3 separate regions of the Homo sapiens genome follow, and regions 1 and 2 are each linked to region 3. The links come from fine-mapping of genetic effects on gene expression. A gene starts in region 3. Each other region holds a variant in brackets. All regions are shown on one strand. Distances are from middle to middle. Region 1 has its middle 12 kb from the start of MIR3917. Region 2 overlaps PAQR7 (progestin and adipoQ receptor family member 7). Region 3 holds the start of MTFR1L (mitochondrial fission regulator 1 like).

Evidence for each region. PIP is the estimated chance that this variant, and not a neighbour inherited with it, causes the effect.
Region 1: its variant is the best candidate, but not a certain one, in a credible set for the expression of MTFR1L in lymphoblastoid cells (CAP, PIP 0.53).
Region 2: its variant is the best candidate, but not a certain one, in a credible set for the expression of MTFR1L in whole blood (TOPMed, PIP 0.50).

What each region holds. Positions count from the first base shown.
Region 1 is chr1:25,914,761-25,921,292 of GRCh38, forward strand. No RefSeq gene overlaps it. Among named protein-coding and RNA genes, the nearest start is that of MIR3917, 12 kb to the left of the region's middle. The variant A/ATT (reference allele first, on the strand shown) is at 3,597.
Region 2 is chr1:25,864,401-25,870,932 of GRCh38, forward strand. It overlaps PAQR7 (progestin and adipoQ receptor family member 7), which reads right to left. Exons shown (of 3, transcript NM_178422.6): 2 at 6,209-6,294. Among named protein-coding and RNA genes, the nearest start is that of PAQR7, 8.0 kb to the right of the region's middle. RefSeq lists an enhancer at 5,316-5,817. The variant A/C (reference allele first, on the strand shown) is at 2,896.
Region 3 is chr1:25,817,795-25,824,326 of GRCh38, forward strand. MTFR1L (mitochondrial fission regulator 1 like) reads left to right here and starts at 2,160. Exons shown (of 7, transcript NM_001099625.2): 1 at 2,160-2,235; 2 at 5,225-5,334; 3 at 5,850-5,954. The coding sequence starts at 5,311. SELENON (selenoprotein N) reads left to right here. Exons shown (of 12, transcript NM_206926.2): 12 at 1-427. LOC646471 (a long non-coding RNA gene) reads right to left here and starts at 5,812. Exons shown (of 1, transcript NR_024498.1): 1 at 2,160-5,812. RefSeq lists enhancers at 203-703, 2,346-2,485, 2,866-2,955 and silencers at 1,946-2,135, 2,586-2,755.

The sequences.
Region 1 (6,532 bases), 97 kb after region 3:
TATATGATGCAGCAGGTACTGCTCAGTTACTATTTGTATGAGTGTGGGCACGTGACTTCCCCTTTTGGGGCCTGTGTTCCATCATCTGTGAAATGGGAAGAACACCCCTACCTCATAGAGCTGCCAGGACTAAATAAAATAATATATGTAAAGTCCCTAGCATTGTGTCTATACACAATAAACCCTCAGTAAGTGACAGCTAAGGTATTAGCTATCAAGGACAGCTCTGATCATGCCATTTTCTGCTTGAAAACATTCGACAAATTCAACTTTGGGACACATGATATGAGAAAAGCAAAAATTTCTGAAACCTAAAAAAAAAAAAAAAAAGACTCCCTTTCTTGGCTTAGAGGCCAAGGATTCCTGGCACAGCAGCTATAACCCTCCGTGAAGTCATTGCAGGTCTTTATCTCCATGAGGACCTCCAGGTCAGTCTTCCTCAAGGACCTCCCCCTCCTTTTCCCTGAGATTCTTTAATTCTTGATGCATGTGAAAATCTGTCTTCTTGGGCCGGTGGCAGTGGCTCACGCCTGTAATCTCAGCACTTTGGGAGGCCGAGGCGGGCGGATCACGAGGTCAGGAGATCGAGACCATCCTGGCTAACACGGTGAAACCCCATCTCTACTAAAAATACAAAAAATTAGCCAGGTGTGGGGGCGGGCGCCCATAGTCCCAGCTACTCAGGAGGCTGAGGCAGGAGAATGGCATGAACCCGGGAGGCAGAGCTTGCAGTGAGCCGAGATCACGCCACTGCACTCCAGCCTGGGTGACAGAGCAAGACTCTGTCTAAAAAAAAAAAAAGAAAATCTGTCTTCTCGGATGGATCGTTATAGAGAAGCACAACTAAGATGAACGGAAGAGCTCTGTGATCACTGGACTTAGCCAACAATAGAATGGACTGGGACCTATTCATGAATGAGATTCTTGTTATGGGACATGTGCCGACAAAGTCAAACATCAGAAATGTTGAATCGGGATTCTTGCATTAGAAGAGAGGTGGACTAAATGACCTCTCTTCCTGCTTTAAGGTCCTTTTTTAATGAGATGGGGAAAGGCTCATTATATTGCGCTAAATAGAACAAACAAAGCCTACCCAATTGCACAATATGAGTTCGACTAGGAACAAAATACATTGAAGAAAATGCACCAAAATAATAGTTCTGGAAAGAAAATAACAATTGAGTTTGCTTTCCTTCTTTATACTATTCTGGATTTTCCAAACTTCTTAAAATGAACTTGTATTACTTGTATTAATGACAAAAATTATATATATATTTTTTCTTTCTGAGGCAGAGTTTTGCTCTTGTTGCCCAAGCTAGAGTGCAATGGCATGATCTCGGCTCACTGCAACTTCTGCCTCCCAGGTTCAAGCCATTCTCCTGCCTCAGCCTCCGAAGTAGCTGGGATCACAGGTGCACGCCATTACGCCCAGCTAATTTTTTGTATTTTTAGTAGAAACGGGGTCTCACCATGTTGAACAGGCTGGTCTCAAACTCCTGACCTCAGGTGATCTGCTGGCCTCGGCCTCCCAAAGTGCTGGGATTACAGGCGTGAGCCGCTGTGCCTTGCCCCAACAATTATATTTAAAAAATAGAAGAGACTTTTGTCCTCCTTGCCCATCTTATGTCCTGTGTCTCTGAAACCTCTATATTCACTCTCACTCCTTCCACTCCCCCACCAAGTTTCAGCTTTATTGGACTGTTGGCAGCTCTCTGAAAGGTTACATGCCTATATGTCCCATTGTTTTGCTGACACCAACTGCCTTAGTTCAGGCTGTTGTAACAGAACAACATTGACTGGGTGGCTTAACCAACAAACATTTATAACTCACAGTCCTGGAGGCTGGGAAGTCCAAGTTCAAGGTGCCAGCAGATCTGATGGCTGGTGAGGGCTCTTTTCCTGGTTTGCAGAAAGACATCTTCTTGTTGAGATGGCTGAGAGCACAAAGAGATTCCGTGTCTCCTCTTTTTATACGGGCACTAATCCCATTCATGAGGGCTCTAGCCTCATGACCTAATTACCTCCCAAAGGCTCTACCTCCAAATACCATTACAGTGGGCCATAGGCTTCAACATATGAATGTGGGAGAGAACACAACATTCAGTCTACAGTACCAGCCCTCATAAGGCCTTGAGTCCCTTGGCTTCTGTCTATATTGAAATTCTCTCCACCTTCAAGGTCTTGACTAACCTCTCTCTCCCTCACCACTATGCTGCTGTTGCAGCTATCCATATACATGTCTGTCCCTCTCACTAGTGAGTAAACTCCTTCAGGGCAGGATCCTATGTGATTCTGTCTTGCCATCCCTGAAGTGCCACAGACACTCTGTGAGTGTTGAATCATTTGGCCAGTGTCTTTTTGGCCACCAAACAACACTTAGGGCTTAAGGTCAGATGGCATATCTGAGTGTATAATCTGCAGTCTAGTCCCTTGCAAATTCAAAAAGACTATTCCAGTGACATCTCTTTCTTTCTTTTTTTTTTTTTTTTGAGATGGAGTCTCGCTTTGTCACCCAAGCTGGAGTGCAGTGGCACCATCTCAGCTCACTGCAAACTCTGCCTCCTGGGTTCAAGTGATTTTCCTGCCTCAGCCTCCTGAGTAGCTGGGATTACAGTTGCGCACCACCACACCTGGCTAATTTTTGTATTTTTAGTAGAGACGGAGTTTCAGCATGTTGGTCAGGCTGGTCTCAAACTCCTGACCTCGTGATCCGCCTGCCTCGGCCTCCCAAAGTGCTGAGATTACAGGTGTGAGCCACCGCGCCTGGTCTCTTTTTTTTTTTTTTAAATTATTTTATTTGTTTTTAAACTTCAATTGAAATCAACCATTTTCGATTTCCAGAGAGTTGCAAAGATGGTACACGGAGTTCCCGTATGCCCTTCAGCCAGCTTCATTTGGTGTTAACATCTTACATAATCATGGTACATTTATCCAAACTAACAGATTAACATTGGTACAATACTATTAACTGAATGGCTGAATTTAATCGGATTCTCCATTTTTCCACTGGGGTCCCTTTTTGTGTTACAGGATCTAATCCAGGATACCACCTTGCACGTTGCATCTTGCCTCCTTAGCCAGTGACATTTATTTTAATGAGGAGGCCAGGGCTCGGCTCTTGTCCTCTGCTGGGCTTCTGGTGCTTCCTATGGGAAGATTGACGCTTCCTCCCACATGAAGCTAAAATGATTTTCATTTTAGATCTACTCTGTTTCTTGAATGGGCTCTTGTGGGCCTAGAAACAAGGGGGAATTACTAGTTTAATTCACTAAATTTCTGGGCCATTCCGTAGCCCATTTTTCCATGCCTTGGCACGGAGCTTGATCCTAGTCACTTAAAAAGCTTCCAAGCAGTTGGCTTCTATCAGCAATCTTAGCAATTCAGTGAGAACAGAGGTTACAGCTGTCACAGGAAGTGGAAACGAAGGCTGCTGATATCACACCCATTCTGAGACGGATGAAAGTCTACACGTTGTAGAAGTCAAGCTGGGAAGCTGGGGGTGGCTGGGGTGTCAGGTGGCAAAGGGTGGGATGCTGTGCAAGAGAAAATACAGGAGGGGAAGAAAAGCAGATGTGTCATTCATTGGAACTCCATTG[A/ATT]TTTTTTTTTTTTTTTTTTGAGATGGAGTCTCACTCTCTCACCCAGGCTGGAATGCAGTGGTGCGATCTTGGTTCACTGCAACCTCAGCCTCTTGGGTTCAAGCGATTTCCCTGCCTCAGCTATCAGAGTGGCTGGGATTAAAGGCACACGCCACCATAGCCAGCTAATTTTTCTATTTTTATTAGAGACAGGGTTTCACCACGTTGGCTAGGGTGGTCTCAAACTCCTGATCTTAAGTGATTCGCCTGCCTCAGCTTCCCAAACTGCTGGAATTACAGGCGTGAACCACCACCCCAGCCTGGAACCCCTTCGATTGTAGACCTTGGGGGCTTATTGCTCTTAGATACCAAGACCTCTTTCAACTAAGCCCGTGCATGAATGAGAAAGCAGTACTGCCCTGGGGTGGATGCAGGCCCCATCACTCTACTGGATTACCAGGCAGCCTCCCAATTGGTCCTCAGTCTGCCCCTCCCACATAGGCGCTCATAACCCAAATCCCTACGGAGGGGTCAGGAGAAGAGGCGGCACCAGAGGGGACAGAGCAGGCAGCACACTGGAGAGTGCAGGCCCCACCCGGGCAGGAGGACGAGCATGTTCTGCTGATACCTTAAAAAAAAAAAAAAAATTGGCTTGGCGCGGTGGCTCACGCCAGTAATCCCAGCACTTTGGGAGGCCAAGGCGGGAGGATCATGAGGTCAGGAGATCGAGACCATCCTGGCTAACGCGGTGAAACCCCGTCTCTACTAAAAATACAAAAAAAATTAGCCAGGCATGGTGGCCAGGTGCCTGTAGTCCCAGCTACTCGGGAGCCTGAGGCAGGAGAATGGCGTGAACCCGGGAGGTGGAGCTTGCAGTGAGCCGAGGTTGCGCCACTGCCCTCCAGCCTGGGCGACACAGCAAGACTCGGTCTTGAAAAAAAAAAAAAGAAAAAAAAATTTTTCCAGCTGGGCATGGTGGCTCACGCCTGTAATCCCAACACTTTGGGAGGCCAAGATGGGCAGATCACTTGAGCCCAGGAGTTCCAGATCAGCCTGGCCAATATGGCGAAACCCCATCTCTACTAAAAATACTGGCCGTGGTGGCTCACACCTGTAGTCCCAGCAACTCGGGAGGATGAAGCAGGAGAATGCTTGAACCTGGGAGGCTGAGGCTGCAGTGATCCAAGATTGAGCCACTTTACTCTAGCCTGGGCGACAGAGAGAGACTCTGTCTAAAAAAAAAAAAAAAAAAAAAAAAAAAAAAAATCCTACTTTTATTTCAGGAGGTACATGTGCAGATTTCTTAAATGGGTATAATGTGTGATGCTGAGGTTTGGGATACCAATGATCTTGCCACCCAGATGGTAGCATAGATTACCCAACAGTTGGTTTTTCAAGTCTGTTTTCTTCATTACCATAGAACAGTGCCTGACAAATACTAGGTTCTCAATACATAGTTGGTATATGAACCAGCCAAGTTCATTAGGGGCTCAGAGCACAGTGGTTAAGAGTGTGGGCTCTGGAGTCAGGGTCTCTGAGTTCACATCCTGATTCTGCCTCTTACCTTCCGCAGAGTTTTTAGGATGAGTACCAGAAAACTCAGCCCAGGGAAGAATTTGTTGTTTTGATGCTGATTGTCCATTCATTCAACAGAAGGTTACTGATGAACCATGAGGTGTCATGTCTTGTACTAGGCCCTGGGAGCACAGGAAGAAAGAAGGCATGTCCCTGGCCTCAAGAGCTCATAGTAAGTAGACAAGCAGCTCAGAGCACTGATGGGGCGCAGGGGAGCAGAGGCTAACCCAGGCAGCGGAGGGGAAACAAGGAAGGCCTCCTAGAGAAAGGGGTGGCTGAGCTGATGAGGCCTGAAGGAAGCTTGTAGGCAAAGAGGAATGGGGAGAGGGTGCCAGGAAGAGGAAATAGCACAGCCAAATGCCTAGAAGAAGCCAGCCTAGAGCAGTAGCTGAACTGCAAGTAGTTTGCCCTGTCCCTCCAGCAGGTTTCAAGTTGAGGGATGTTAACCCTGGATTTGAGACAGGGGAGGGGATCTGGGGCAGCAGCACCAAGGCCATTCCTTGTGAGGTAGGAGGCAGGACTCGACACTGAATGAGATTTAAGACTGGCTGACGTGCCTACCAGTGCCATGACAGTTTACCCATTCCCTAGCAACAACCTGGAAGTTACCACCTTTTTCTAGAAATTTCTGGATAACCGGCCAGGCGCGGTGACTCACACCTGTAATCCCAGCACTTTGGGAGGCTGAGGCAGGCGGATCACGAGGTCAGGAGTTCGAGACCAGCGTGGCCAGCATGATGAAACCCCATCTCTACTAAAAATACACAAATTAGCCAGGCATGATGGCACACACCTGTAATCCCAGCACCTCTGGAGGTTGAGGCAGGAGAATCACTTAAACCCGGGAGGTGGAGGTTGCAGTGAGCCGAGATTGTACCACTGTACTCCAGCCTGGGCGACAGAGTGAGACTGTGTCTCAAATAAAAACAAATTTCTGAATAACCTGCCCCTTAATTTGCATGTAATTAAAAGTGGATATAAATGAAACTGCAGAACTGCCCCTGAGCTGCTAGACTCCACTCTCTCCTCAGTGGGAACAGTCACGGAGCTGTAACACTGCTGCCTCAATAAAGCTGTTTTCTTCTACCACTAGTTCACCCTTGAATTCTTTCCTGGTGGAAGCCAAGAACTTTCCCCAGTGGAGCGCCAGTGTTGAGGCTCCCCTGCCCTGCAAAATGTGTAAGCCCTTTGGGGTTGGGCGGGGAGCTAGGACTTTAAGGATGACCATCTAGAATCACAACATTGCAGGTTCTTTGAGCTGAGGGACCTGATGGGTCACACAGTCACTCTTGAATCCCTTCCCTGCATGTTGAAAAACTAAAAACCCAAAAAGTACAAAGAAGAAAATAACAATTATTCATATTTCCTATCACCTGGAATTA
Region 2 (6,532 bases), 47 kb after region 3:
TCCAGTCTTGTTGCACAACCACAGTGCACTTCAAATCCAGACACAGCCCCACCAACCCCTGGACTGCTCTTTCACATGTCTGTAGCTTTACACGAGCCGTTCCCTCTGCCTGAGACATTTTCCTCATCTTGCCTACTAGGCAAACCCCTATTCATTCCTCAAAAACCCATTTCTTGGCTAGGCATGCGGCCTCACTCCTGTAATCCCAGCACTTTGAGAGGTCAGAGCAGGAGGATTGCTTGGGGCCAGGAGTTCAAGACCAGCCTGGGCAATGTAGTGAGATCCTATCTCTACAAAAAAGTTAGCCAGGTGTGGTGGCATGTGCCTGTAGTCCCAGCTACTGGAGAGGCTGGGGCAGGAGGATCCCTTGAGCCCAGGAATTTGATGTACAGTGAGCTCTGATCACACTACTACTCTCAAGCTTGATCAAGCTTGATCTCAAGCGAGATCCTGTCTCTTAAAAAAACAAACAGCGGCCAGGTGCGGTGGCTCACATCTGTAATCCCAGCACTTTGGGAGGCTGAGACGGGCGGATCACAAGGTCAGGAGATGGAGACCATCCTGGCTAACACGGTGAAACCCCGTCTCTACTAAAAATACAAAAATTTAGCCAGGTGAGGTGGGGGGCACCTGTAGTCCCAGCTGCTCGGGAGGCTGAGGCAGGAGAATGGCGTGAACCCAGGGGGCGGAGCCTGCAGTGCGCGCCACTGCACTCCAGCCTGGGTGACAGCGAGACTCCGTCTCAAAAAAAAAAAAAAAACCACAAACAAAAAAACATTTCTTCTGGGATGCTTTCCCTGGCCTCCTGAACCTCCTACGATGACCCCTCCACTTGAGTGCTTATCATCAGACCATCCTTTGACGATTTTCACATTTCTCATGATTGTTCATGTGAGCTCATCAAGGGGAGGCAGTTTGTCTCATTATTTTGTGAATCCCTGGTGCTTAGCAAATAGCTGGCACTCAATGTTTGCTGAATGAAAGAACAACATGACCGGGCGCAGTGGCTCACGCCTGTAATCCCAGCACTTTGGGAGGCTGAGGCAGGCGGATCACCTGAGGTCGGGAGGTCGAGACCAGCCTGACCAACATGGAGAAATCCTGTCTCTACTAAAAATACAAAACTAGGCCGGGCATGGTGGCTCACGCCTGTAATCCCAGCACTTTGGGAGGCCGAGGCGGGCGGATCATGAGGTCAGGAGATCGAGACCATCCTGGCTAACACGGTGAAACCTCATCTCTACTAAAATACAAAAAATTAGCCAGGCGTGGTGGCAGACACCTGCAGTCCCAGCTACTCGGGAGCTGAGGCAGGAGAATGGCATGAACCCGAGAGGTGGAGCTTGCAGTGAGCCAAGATCACGCCACTGCACTCCAGCCTGGGCGACAGAGTGAGACTCCATCTCAAAAATAAATAAATAAATAAAAATACAAAACTAGCCAGTTGTGGTGGCACCTGCCTATAAGCCCAGCTACTCCAGAGGCTGAGGCAGGAGAATTACTTGAACCAAGGAGGCGTAGGTTGCGGTGAGCCGAGATCGCACCATTGCACTCCAGCCTGGGCAACAAGAGGGAAACTCCGTCTCAAAAAAAAAAAAAAAGAAAAAGAAAGAACAACATGACACCATTCTGATAACACTTCATATCTTTCCAGGCCCAACTCAAAAGACCACTTTTTTCCTGAAAGTCCCCATTTAACAACTGATGAACCACACCCCCACTCTCAAAATCCCCTCTCCAGGCCCTCCCCCAACTGCCCATGGTTGCTAGTTCCAAATAAATCCAATATAACCCCTTACCCTGGCATTCAAGGCCCACATGACCTGCTCCTACTACCCTTATTCCCCACCTAACCCCAATGTCACACCCTGTGCCACCTTCCTTTCCCTGCACTGAAATCCTTTAAGACCACTACAAGCTGCCACCTCTGGGGCCTCCTTACTGCTCCCCCAATCCCACTTTCCCCTGACCTATAATGGGTTACACAGTTTAACCTTGATTCATTCATTTAACAAACACTTACTGAGCCCTTCTTTGCCTCAGACCCTGTGCTGGATGGGACAAAGAACAGAGTGAAAGATTTGATCCCTGCCCTCAGGAATGTCATGATCTGGCAAAAGATATAGAAACAAAAACAAATCATAGCAAATGCTCACACAGCACCTGCTAGACGCTTCCCAGCAACCCTGAGAGGCAGACACTATCATTATTCCCATTTTCCAGGTAAGGAAACTGAAGTACAGAGAAGTTAAGTGCCTTGCCCACCCACCTAGCCAGGAAGTAGCAGATGGCAGAGGCATGCTCTGAACTCAAGTCTGTTTTTTTGTGTGTTTTGTTTGTTTGTTTGTTTGAGACAGAGTCTTGCTCTGTCACCCAGGCTGGAGTGCAATGGCTCAATCTCGGCTCACTGCAACCTCCGCCTCCTGGGTTCAAGCAATTCTCCTGCCTCAGCCTCCCGAGTACCTAGGATTACAGGTGCCCGCCACCACGCCCAGCTAATTTTTGTATTTTTAGTAGACAGGGTTTCACCACATTGGCCAGGCTGGTCTCGAACTCCTGACCTCAGGTGATCCACCTACCTTGGCCTCCCAAAGTGTTGGGATTACAGGCGTGAGCCACGGCACCCAGCCTTGTTTTGTTTTTAAGATAGCGTCTTGCTCTGTCCCCCAGGTTGGAGCACAGTGGTATAATCACAGCTCACTGCAGCCTTGACCTCATGGACTCAAGCAATCCTCCTATCAGCCTCCCAAGTGGCTGGGGCTACAGGTACATGTTACCATGCTCAGCTGATTTTTTAAATTTATTTTTACTTTATTATAGAGTCAGGGTCTCACTTTGTTGCCCAGGCTGGTCTCGAACTCCTGGCCTCAAGCGACCCTCCCACTCGGCCTCCCA[A/C]AGTGCTGGGATTACAAATGTGAGCCACTGTGCTCTTAACCACTACCCTAAAATGCACTTTGCAACACAAGGTGGCAAGGGCTATTTATCGTTTCCTAATTTTATACTGTTTTACCTGGCTTCAATTACATAATTCAGGCTTACCGTCATTCATTGTGTTATTCATTAACTCAAATAGTTATTGAAAAACCTGCCAGACAATCCCTCCCTGCCTGCCAAATAAATTCCCTCCAAGCTTACTTATTGGACTCAGTGTTCAGGTTCATCAGATATTTATTGTGACTACCTCTGCACCAGTCACCAGACAAGGAAAAGAGATTCAGGCAGGATAAAGCATTCATGTTCTCTGCCCCCAGTGGCACTGTGATCACCCCCAAAACCAATCAAATAAGTCACACACAGTCCAAGTAAATGCAGAGTGCTTGCTATGCAAGGGCAGCATCAAGACGACCCCACCCCCACAAGCCCACATCTCCAGAGCCTGATTTGCATTCCTAAGCTCCTCCTGCATTAGGATTCTGGCATCAGCCCTGCTCCCCAGTCTTTCCTAGTCCAGTGGGGAAGCAGGAGTCGTTACACTGCTGCACAGGGGCTGCTACTTAGGACAACAGGCATGTGCAGGACTCTTCTATTCCCCAGCGAGCCTGGCACAGGGCAGATTTAGGAAGCAGACATTGCTGCTGCACTAATTGACGGGGCCACTTCCATCCAGAGCACAAGACCTCCCTTGGCCAGCCTTGCTGGTTGGGGAGCCAGTTCTGGATTTCTCCATCTCCCCAAGAGATGGTTTCAACCTCAACAATCTGGCCCCCACTCTTGTCCACAACTTTGTCTTCCCAACTGAGAACCTTGGGGGGACCAGAAAAGACCTCTGAAAGCATCTTGGGCAACTCTCTTGTTTTACACTTAGGAAAGCAGAGCCCAGAAACTGGAAGGCCTTCCCCAGAGTCCTCCCACCCAGCAAGGTTTCTATTCCACTACTGCGGCAAAGACCAGCGAATGATGGCGATGGCTGTGCCCTGTGGACACCTAGCTCCTGGGTGCCTGTGATCTGATAAGTCCAGTCCTGTGCTCCATATCCCACTCTTGGAACTTCCCAAGATATAACAGCACATTAAAGACTCTCAGAAGGGCTGGACACGATGGCTCATGCCTGTAATCCCAGCACTTTGGGAGGCCGAGGCAGGTGGATCACTTGCAATCAGGAGTTCGAAACCAGCTTGGGCAACATGGTAAAACCCTGTCTCTATGAAAAAATACAAAAATTCGCCAGGTGTGGTGGTGTGCACCTGTAGTCCCAGCTACTTGGGAAGCTGAGGCAGGAAGATCCCTTGAGCCTCAGAGGCAGAGGTTGCCGGGAGCCAAGATTGTGCCACTGCACTCCAGCCTGGGTGACAGAGTGAGACCCTTTCTCAAAAAAAAAAAAAAAAAAAAAGCTCTAAGAAGTCCTGCAGCAAAGAAGTTGGCTTAGCTTTGTTGAATCAACATTTGCCAAGCTTATGTGACCACGGATTCCTTCCGTAGTAATAATTATATTATAAAGCCACTTGAGGCCGGGCGCAGTGGCTCACGCCTGTAATCCCAGCACTTTGGGAGGCCGAGGTGGGTGGATCACGAGGTCAAGAGATCGAGACCATTCTGGCCAACATGGTGAAACCCCGTCTCTACTAAAAATACAAAAATTAGCTGGGCGTGGTGGCACGTGCCTGTAGTCCCAGCTACTCGGGAAGCTAAGGCAGGAGAAGGCCTTGAACCCGGGAGGCGGAGGTTGCAGTGAGCCAAGATCGCACTACTGCACTCAAGCCTGGGCAACAGAGTGAGACTCCATCTCAAGAAGAAAAAAAAAAGCCAGTTTAAATGTAGAAAGTGTTTACTATATGCCCACTCTTTACAGTCCTGTTGCAATTAACTCTCATAACTTGCCTGGGAGGTAAGTACTATTCTGCCCATTTTGTTGTTGCGGATAATGAAATTCAGAGAAGTCAAAAGCTCCCAGCTGGGCGCAGTGGCTCACACCTGTAATCCCAGCTCACTGGGAGGCCGAGGTGGGCGGATCACCTGAGGTCAGGAGTTCGAGACCAGCCTGGCCAATATTGGGAAACCCCATGTCTACTAAAAATACAAAAATTAGCCGGGCATGGTGGTGCATGCTTGTAATCCCAGCTACTCAGGAGGCTGAGGCAGGAGAATCGCTTGAGCTCGGGGAGCTGAGATTGCAGTGAGCCGAGATCGTGCCACTGTACTCCAGTCTGGGTGACAAAGTGAGACTCTCTAAAAAAAAAAAAAAAGAAAAAAGAAAGGAAAAAAAAAAGCTCCTTACCCAAGGTTGGAGGATGGGGGAGGGAGGTGGAGCCAGGACTGGGCTGTAGATGCTTGCAGACACTACTGCTGCCCTGCTCCAGGCACACTTGTCTGCATCCTACAGAACAACTTTGCAAAATCCTGGTCTAAAGCAGGCAACCAGGCTCTTTCTTATAAATTACTTTCTTAGGCTTCTAGCAATTCAGTCTCCCTCAGTTGCTGGCTACCTGCTTGCACCTGATCTTCTCCAGGGAGGCCCTGGCTCAAGCCACCTCCTTAGGTGAGTGACAGCGCTCGCTTATACCTCCCTCCCCCAGATATAATGGGCCCTATGGACAAAACCTGAGGCACCATGCTAGGATGACAGAGACCCCGCTGCCCTATTTTCTTTAGACCTCAGCTAGAGGCCTCACTCCACCTAAGTAGGTCTGTTTTCAGAATTAGTTTCCACCTCCTGACTCCATGGAAAGGGACTCTGATCCAGGGGAAAGGAAAAAGCAGGGGCAGGGGTCAAGCCTGAGCCAGCAGGATGAGGATGGATATCCGGAGGGCACCATCAGGGCATCCTCTGAGTGGTCAGCCTCTGAGTCGTGTGCCCACCAGGCTGCTGGGCCCTGTCTATTCAGGCAGCTCAGCCCAGCCCACCTCCATGGGCCCCTCCAAGTCTGGCAAATTGCACTGGGTACCTGGGGGTTTCTCTCAAGCCTGGGGGCTGGTGACCTCTACTATGGGACTGGGCAAATTCACCAGATGCTGAGCACTTCCACAGATGAGGGGCACTAGGGGCGGGGCTTCCAGGGACTGGGGGTGTCTTGTGTGATGTCACCAGAGGGTGGGGCTAAAGACAACCTCCCACACCTCTCCTCCCCAACTTCACCACTCCCATAGTGGTGAAATCCATGCTAAACTGTGTGCCTTCCTAGCCAGGCCTCTGCTGCAGCAAGCAGCTCACCATTCACCTCTGCATGAGACTTACGGGGAAACCGAGGGCCAGCTGAAAAGTTTGACTTACCTAAGATCACACAGCAGGGCAAAGGCAAAGCCAGGTGACTAGGGCCTGGTTGATGGTGTCAGGCAAACTTCAGTGGTTCCTGTCCACTACTCAGTGGGAATCAGAATGGAAGAAGGTTAGGAATAAAGGAAAAAGCAGACGGTATAAAAGTGCACAGAGCAGATGGACTTCAGATTCAGACAAACCAGGTTTGACTCCTGATTGCATAACATGCTAGCTATGTGACCTTAGACAAGTGACTTACCTTCTCTGATCCTTAGCTCCCTCATGGGAATGACAATATTATCTACCTCATAGGTTGCTGTAAAGATTAAATTTATTAGA
Region 3 (6,532 bases):
CAAACCAGAGTGTCTCACTCCCCTCTGACCTCCAGACCAGATGGGGCATGAGCCAGCCAGCTCAGCCAGGCTCCCTGTGTCCTGGGAGGAAGTGTCCCCATCCCCCATGCCCCTTATGGGGAGGGAGGGCGTCTGATGCTCTCTCTCTGCCTCCCCCCCCATCCTGTCAGGCACAGGTGACGGGGGCAGCCCATGCGAGCCCTTCTCCTGCTGCTCTGGGAGGGCCAGTTCCACATTGAGCCAGCCTGGTCCCATGGAAAATGATGGCCTGGGCTTTCTGAGGCCTTATCTGATGCCTCTGCAGTTCATGTCCCCCACCAGGCCTCGAGGCTCAGGGTGGGAGAGGGCCCCGGGCTGCCCTGTCACTCCTCTAACACTTCCCTCCCCTGTCCCCAACATGCCCTGTAATAAAATTAGAGAAGACTAACTAGAGTGGTTCTAAGTGCTTTTCCTTTGAGTGGCATGTTGCTCAGCTCCGTCCTTCCATGGGGTGGCTCCCTCTTGGGGCAGAGTTGAGCTGGAATGCTTTCAGGTACTATCTTACCTATCGAAGGCTTGAGTGACTTGCCCAAAATAAGTTTTACGATAGAACAAGTGGTAGGACTTACTGTTTTGAGAATCTGGTGCTCTCTGTTGAGAGAGATCTGGGAGTTAAAATCATTGTCTTAAAAGCAGAGCCTGAGACAGGCATGAAGTGTTTTTTTGTTTGTTTGTTTTGTTTGTTTGGTGGGGCTGGGGGGGAGTGTACTTCCAGAAAAACCAGTAAAAGAAGGAAGGAAGCAGAAGAGGGAAAGGAAAAATGCTGAGCAGGAACAGTCTCAGCCCAGCCTTGGCCTGACCCACAGTGGAAGAGCTGTGGGGCATAAACCACACTGCAGAGCTGAACTGGCCTTTTGGACCTTTTATCAGTCATTGGCTTGGGAGGTGAAGGAAATTCCCAGGTAGGGAGCTCCGTTCTTCCTGCAAGGGGATCTGAGTGGGACACCAAATCAGCATCTACACCCAGGACAGACAGCCAGCGTGGACTTGCATGATCCGCCATCGCACAGGAGGGAAAGGTAATGATTAAAACACAATGTGCCATCCTGGGAAGAGGGCCAGACCTGGAAGTCAATCTTCAGCGTTTGAGATATGGTGGAGATCAGGGTGGACGACCTCTGAGGTCTCTAGCCAGGACCAGTCACATAATTTGCACAGCCCCGTGCAAAATGAAAACACAAGAACCCCTATTAGAAAATCATTTCAAGACGGCAACAGCAAAGTACTAAACCAAGTACAGGATTCTGAGCATGCGGCCCGTTGTGACTGCATGGGCTGTTCACCCATGAAACCAGCTCTGTCTCTGGCAGAGGGGACTGCAGGCTTTGGAACCAAGGAACTCCAGCCTGGGAGCCAGGCACAGCCCGAGGCTGTGCTGAAGGCAGAGAAGGAAATGTGACCCAGGAACTGCATGCCACAGACCAAGACAGTGAGGGCTGGAGCACAAAGAGGGAGTGGGTTAGTGAGCCTGGAAGGAATGTGGCTCTTCCCACAGAGCCTCTGGAGTCTTGTACATCAAGTACCCATCTAATAAGCAAACTCATTGAATATACCGTGTGTGTGTGTGTGTGTGTGTGTGTGTGTGTGTGTGTGTGTGAGAGAGAGAGAGAGAGGCTAAAATAGAAGAAAGCTGCAAAGTGCTGGAGGGCAGGAGTCAAGAGGAGAAAGAGGCCCATTCTGCGCATTCTTGCTGGAGAGAGGCTTTGCAAAGGGACCTGCCTGGGAACCAAGAACTGGGAAGGGGGCCAGGGTGAGGATTCTGAAGTTTGCCCTAGGGGTAGGAGCATATTTTAGGGGTCGAGCGACACACCCCTGGGCTTCCAGAAGTCGGATGGGGCTAAACGTGGAGAGCAACAAGCAGGGAGACGCGACGAATACCAGGCCGAGGGATCTCCAAACGCAGCCAACTCCTCCCGGGGACACAGACCCCGCGGGGGCACGGTCTCGATGGAGGGGAGTGTGCTCCGCGGTATCGGAGCCTACAGCCGCCAGCGCCTCGCCCACTCGGGGGCCGCGCTCCCCTCGCCACCGAGCTGGACCCGCCTCCTGAGGGTGCGCGGAGGTGCGCCTCGGTGCGCAGCTGCGGAGGATCGCTTCCGGGGGGCGGGTCAGCGGAAGTGAGGGCGGTTGAGGCTGGGCGGCCCAAGGTGGAAGGAGGGGCCGTGAGGTGAGAGAGTCCGGGAGCCCGAGCTTGAGGTGAGAAAGGTTCTAGGGAGGCGCGGAGGCGGGAGCGCGACCTTCCAGCCCGTTAGTAGACTGGGTCTACGTGCCGGGCGCTGTGCGGAGCCCGCAGCTCCTGTTCCCGCGCGAGTTCTCGCGGGAGCCGCAGCTGTCCGTCTCACTTGGCCCGGGGGAAACTGAGTCCCCGAAGGGTAGTTGCTCGTCGGAGTTCCCCAGCAAACAGTGACCAAGCCAGACCTCAGGCTTCTAGTTTCGGCTTCGCTGCTTGACGGGCCGGGCTGCCCCGCCGCGCATTCTGAGACCTGGCCGCGGCTCGGAGGCTTCCGCGCACTCGGGTCCGGGTCCTGTGGGTCCAAGGGCCGCTGGGCAGGCGGCGAGCACTTGGCCGACCTTGGCCCAGGTCGGGTCGTCTGCCGCGGGGGAGGGGCGACTCGCCCTGGCGGGTCCCCGCGGGGAGAGGGTCCGCGCGGGTCTCCGGCCACTGCTGCGCGCGGCAAAGTTTCACTGAGCGCGGCGGCCTCCGTGGGGGCCCCCGGGACCAGGGGTGCTGAGCAGGGCCCTGCGCTGGAGGAGCTCCCGTTCTCCTGAGGGGACGCCTGTCAGCAGACAGCAACTGCAGCCTCCGGAGGGCTGCGGGGCGCAGAGGTGACAAGACCCACCGGTGCTGCCGGCGAACCGGGGGAAGATCTTCTAGCCAGTGACACTTGGGGGCGGGGGTGACAGCTGAGTTGGTGTTCCCCTTCATTCGTTTAGTTCAGCGCGTTGAAGCGCTCACTGTGTCCTAGGCAGACACCGTGCTGTGCGCGGGGATCACAGTTATCTAGTTCCTCTCGCGAGGACTCCGAGGGACAGGCAGGGTGCTGCGGAGCGCACAGGAAAGGACCTGACCCTGTCGCAGGGAAGGAAGGTGATGCTTAAGCTGAGCTCTGAGGAATGATGAAGAATGAGCTCGGCGAAGGGGGTGCTGGTGTTTGATGCAGGGCTCAGAGGTGGGCCCAGTGTTGGGGGTTGAGGGCCAGTGTGGCTGGAGGGCAAGGGGGAGAGCAGGAGGGCTGGCTGCGAAGCGTGCAGGCCTTGGTGCTCAGTGAATGTGGTCTAGAGACGGCAGAGAAAGATGGGTTTGGGACTGATTGTGGATTTTATCCTGTGTTGGCTCTAGTAAGCCAGTTTTAAACGGATGAGCGATGTGATTAACTGTGTTTGGGAAGGATTCCTCTGGCTGTGTGTGAGGGTTAGGCCCGGCTGGGTCTTTGGAGGTAAGGTCGGAGAGGAAGTGGCAGTAAGCACCGTTAGTGCAATTTGTGGCCGACACGGACATTCAGCACAGAGCCTGGCACACAGAGGGACTCTGATAATAAAGGCTTGAACTGAGCCGAGAAGATGGAGCCCACGCAGGAGGTGGCAGGACCTGGACCAGGCTTTGGGTGCTTTGCACTGGCATGACCACTGAGTGACCTTAGACAAGTGCCTTCCCCTGTCCAACTTCCTTTCCCCATGTGTATCGTGAAGTGAATGACACCTCGTCTCCCAAGGGTAGAAGAGGGGACCCTCCACAGGAGGTCTCCAGAAAGAGCTGCTTTGTCAGTCTAGTCTATCTCCCATTCAGAGCCTGTCCAGGGCTCCCCAGTGACCCGGACCTCATGACTTGCCCCCTACTTTTGTAGCTTTATCATGCTCTGCTCCTCTTTCCATGTCCTTCACCTTCTTGTGCTGGACCTGTGCTCTTGCTGTTTTGTCTTCATTTCCTACTCCCTCGCAACTTACTACAGGGCACTAGGGCCAGAGCTCTGACCTCATCTGGCCACCTGCCTAATGCTACTCAGCCTTTGCTAGAAGTATGTATTCATGTCCTATCACTCTGCTGGACAGCGAGTTCCTTGAGAGCATGACTGTGTCTTACTCCTTCCATAGCCCCTACGGTGCCCAGCACAAGGCCTGGCACAAGTGGGTACTGTTGGTGTTTGATGAACAAGTGAATGAACGAGCACACTGATTGCATCTGCTCACCATGCAAGGACTGCTGTGAAGAGCAGTCAGATGTCACCTCACCCATCTGTGTCATGTTTTAACAGTTCATTAAGCACTCAACCCCATTTCACTCATTGACCCTTAAGGTAGCCTCCAGTGGCAGCTTTTCCTGTCTCCTTTTTCCAGATGGAAAAACCAACATTCAGAAAAGTTAAATAACTTGCCTGTAGCTACAAAGCCAGAAGGTGGCTGAGCCAGGATAAACTTTTTTGGCTCTTTTTCTCTGTAGCTCATGAGACTGAGATTGGCATGAGCTGGTGTTCGTTCTCCTATTTTCTCTGATCTCTCCCTTTGCAAGGGCCCAGCAGTGCTTTTACATCTCATCTTCAAGAATGAATCCTGGGCTTGGATAGTACTTATAATTTGGCTAGATGAGCTTTGTAGCTACCAAGGATTCTATTTGCATCTTTAGAAGTTTTGCCTCAAGAAACCTGAGAGCCCAGGAAGGCTCTTGGGTTGGCCAAGCTCACTAGGCAAATCTTTTTTTTTTTTTTTTTTTTTTGAGACGGAGTCTCGCTCTGTCACCCAGGTTGGAGTGCAGTGGCGTGATCTCGGCTCACTGCAAGCTCTGCCTCCTGGGTTCACGCCATTCTCCTGCCTCAGCCTCCCAAGTAGCTGGTACTACAGGTGCCCGCCACCACACCTGGCTAATTTTTTGTATTTTTAGTAGAGACAGGGCTTCACTGTGTTAGCCAGGATGGTCTCGCTCTCCTGACCTCGTGATCCGCCCACCTCGGCCTCCCAAAGTGCTGGGATTACAGATGTGAGCCACTGCGCCTGGCCGCAGATCTTTAACAGAACCTTTAAGAGTCTGGACTTAGAGCTAAGTGTTGGGTGAGGGCAGCCTCTTGGGCTGGTTTTCTCCCCTGTGAAGTCATGGCTCTGCAGGGCCTGGTTTTTTGGGGCTTGTGTGGTGACCATTAAATCCCCACTGTGGGGGGTTGTTTCACAAGAGGGAAATCTGGTGCTCCTCCAGATGGCCTGATATGAAGGAGTCACGCCTCCCGCCTCCCGGAGCTGCCCAGTGGCTGCCTTGTCCTTCAAGTGCAGGAGCTGGTTCAAATGTCAGGAATGGAAGCCACTGTGGTAAGGGGCATTCCCAGGGCAGGGGTATGGTGGGGAAGGTTGGGTGCTGGGCCTGCTGAAGTACTGTAAAAGGTTCTGAGACTCTCCAGTTGAGCACTCCTTTCTCCAGAGGCCTGGAATTGGAGCAAGGCCACCGTTTCACTCCCTCCCCCTAAGAAGAACCAACTATGATCCTGGGGCACTTCAGGAGTCAGTGTATGTCTGCCTTTCTGTACAGAGGACGGGAAGGAAAGCCTGGATAATCTCTACACTCAGCTACTTCCTCTCCCCTTCCCTGACCCTCCCAACATTGACTGCCTTAGCAGCAGCAGGTATTCCCTTGGGTGGCTGGCCAGGGTGTAGGCTGGCAACTGGGGAACCTGCCCTCACTATAATTGAGAGTTGACTTGCCCCTAGAGAGTGCCCTGTCCCTAGGTTTGTGGAATTCAGTCTCCACAAACCTAGAGAGGAGAGGACAAGGACAGTAGTTGGATTCATTCTCTGGGGTTGTAGCTGTCTCCGTCTCTTTGCTCCAGACCATCCCAATCTGGCAAAACAAGCCACATGGGGCTGCTCGAAGTGTAGTAAGAAGAATTGGGACCAACCTACCCTTGAAGCCGTGTGCCCGGGCGTCCTTTGAGGTGAGTATGTTGGAAGGGCAGGAGAGTAGAGGCTCAGACAGTGCTGCTTCTGTGCCCCAAACCCCTTGGTACTGCCCAAGTAGGTTGTTTCCTGGTCACTTTTCATTCTGTTATGAAATATTTGTTAAATGCTTATAAGATATCCTGGTCACTGTGTCCTCCTGAGTGCATACAAACCTGTGACCACAAGGAACCTGACAGGTCCCCCACATGGGACACTGACTATTGTGATTTTTGAGTTGAACTCTGCTTTTCTTCACCAGCCCTAAGAATTGACCATGTAGCCAGTATTTTTATTTTATTATTTTTTGAGATGAGGTCTCCCTATGTTGCCCAGGCTAGGTCTTAAACTCCTGGGCTCAAGCAGTCCTCCTGCCTCAGCCTCCTATGTAGCTGGGATTACAGGCACAAGCCACCATGCCCAGCTCCACTATTTTTAGTGTTTCTCTGAGGCCATAATTCCTCAGCCTTCTCTTTTTGGCCAATCTGGGCATCCTTTACTGGGGTGCTTTGGTCTTACCTCTGTGTCTAGGGATCCTTTAGCACCCACTCAGCAGCAGAGATTCCTACCTGGCCCA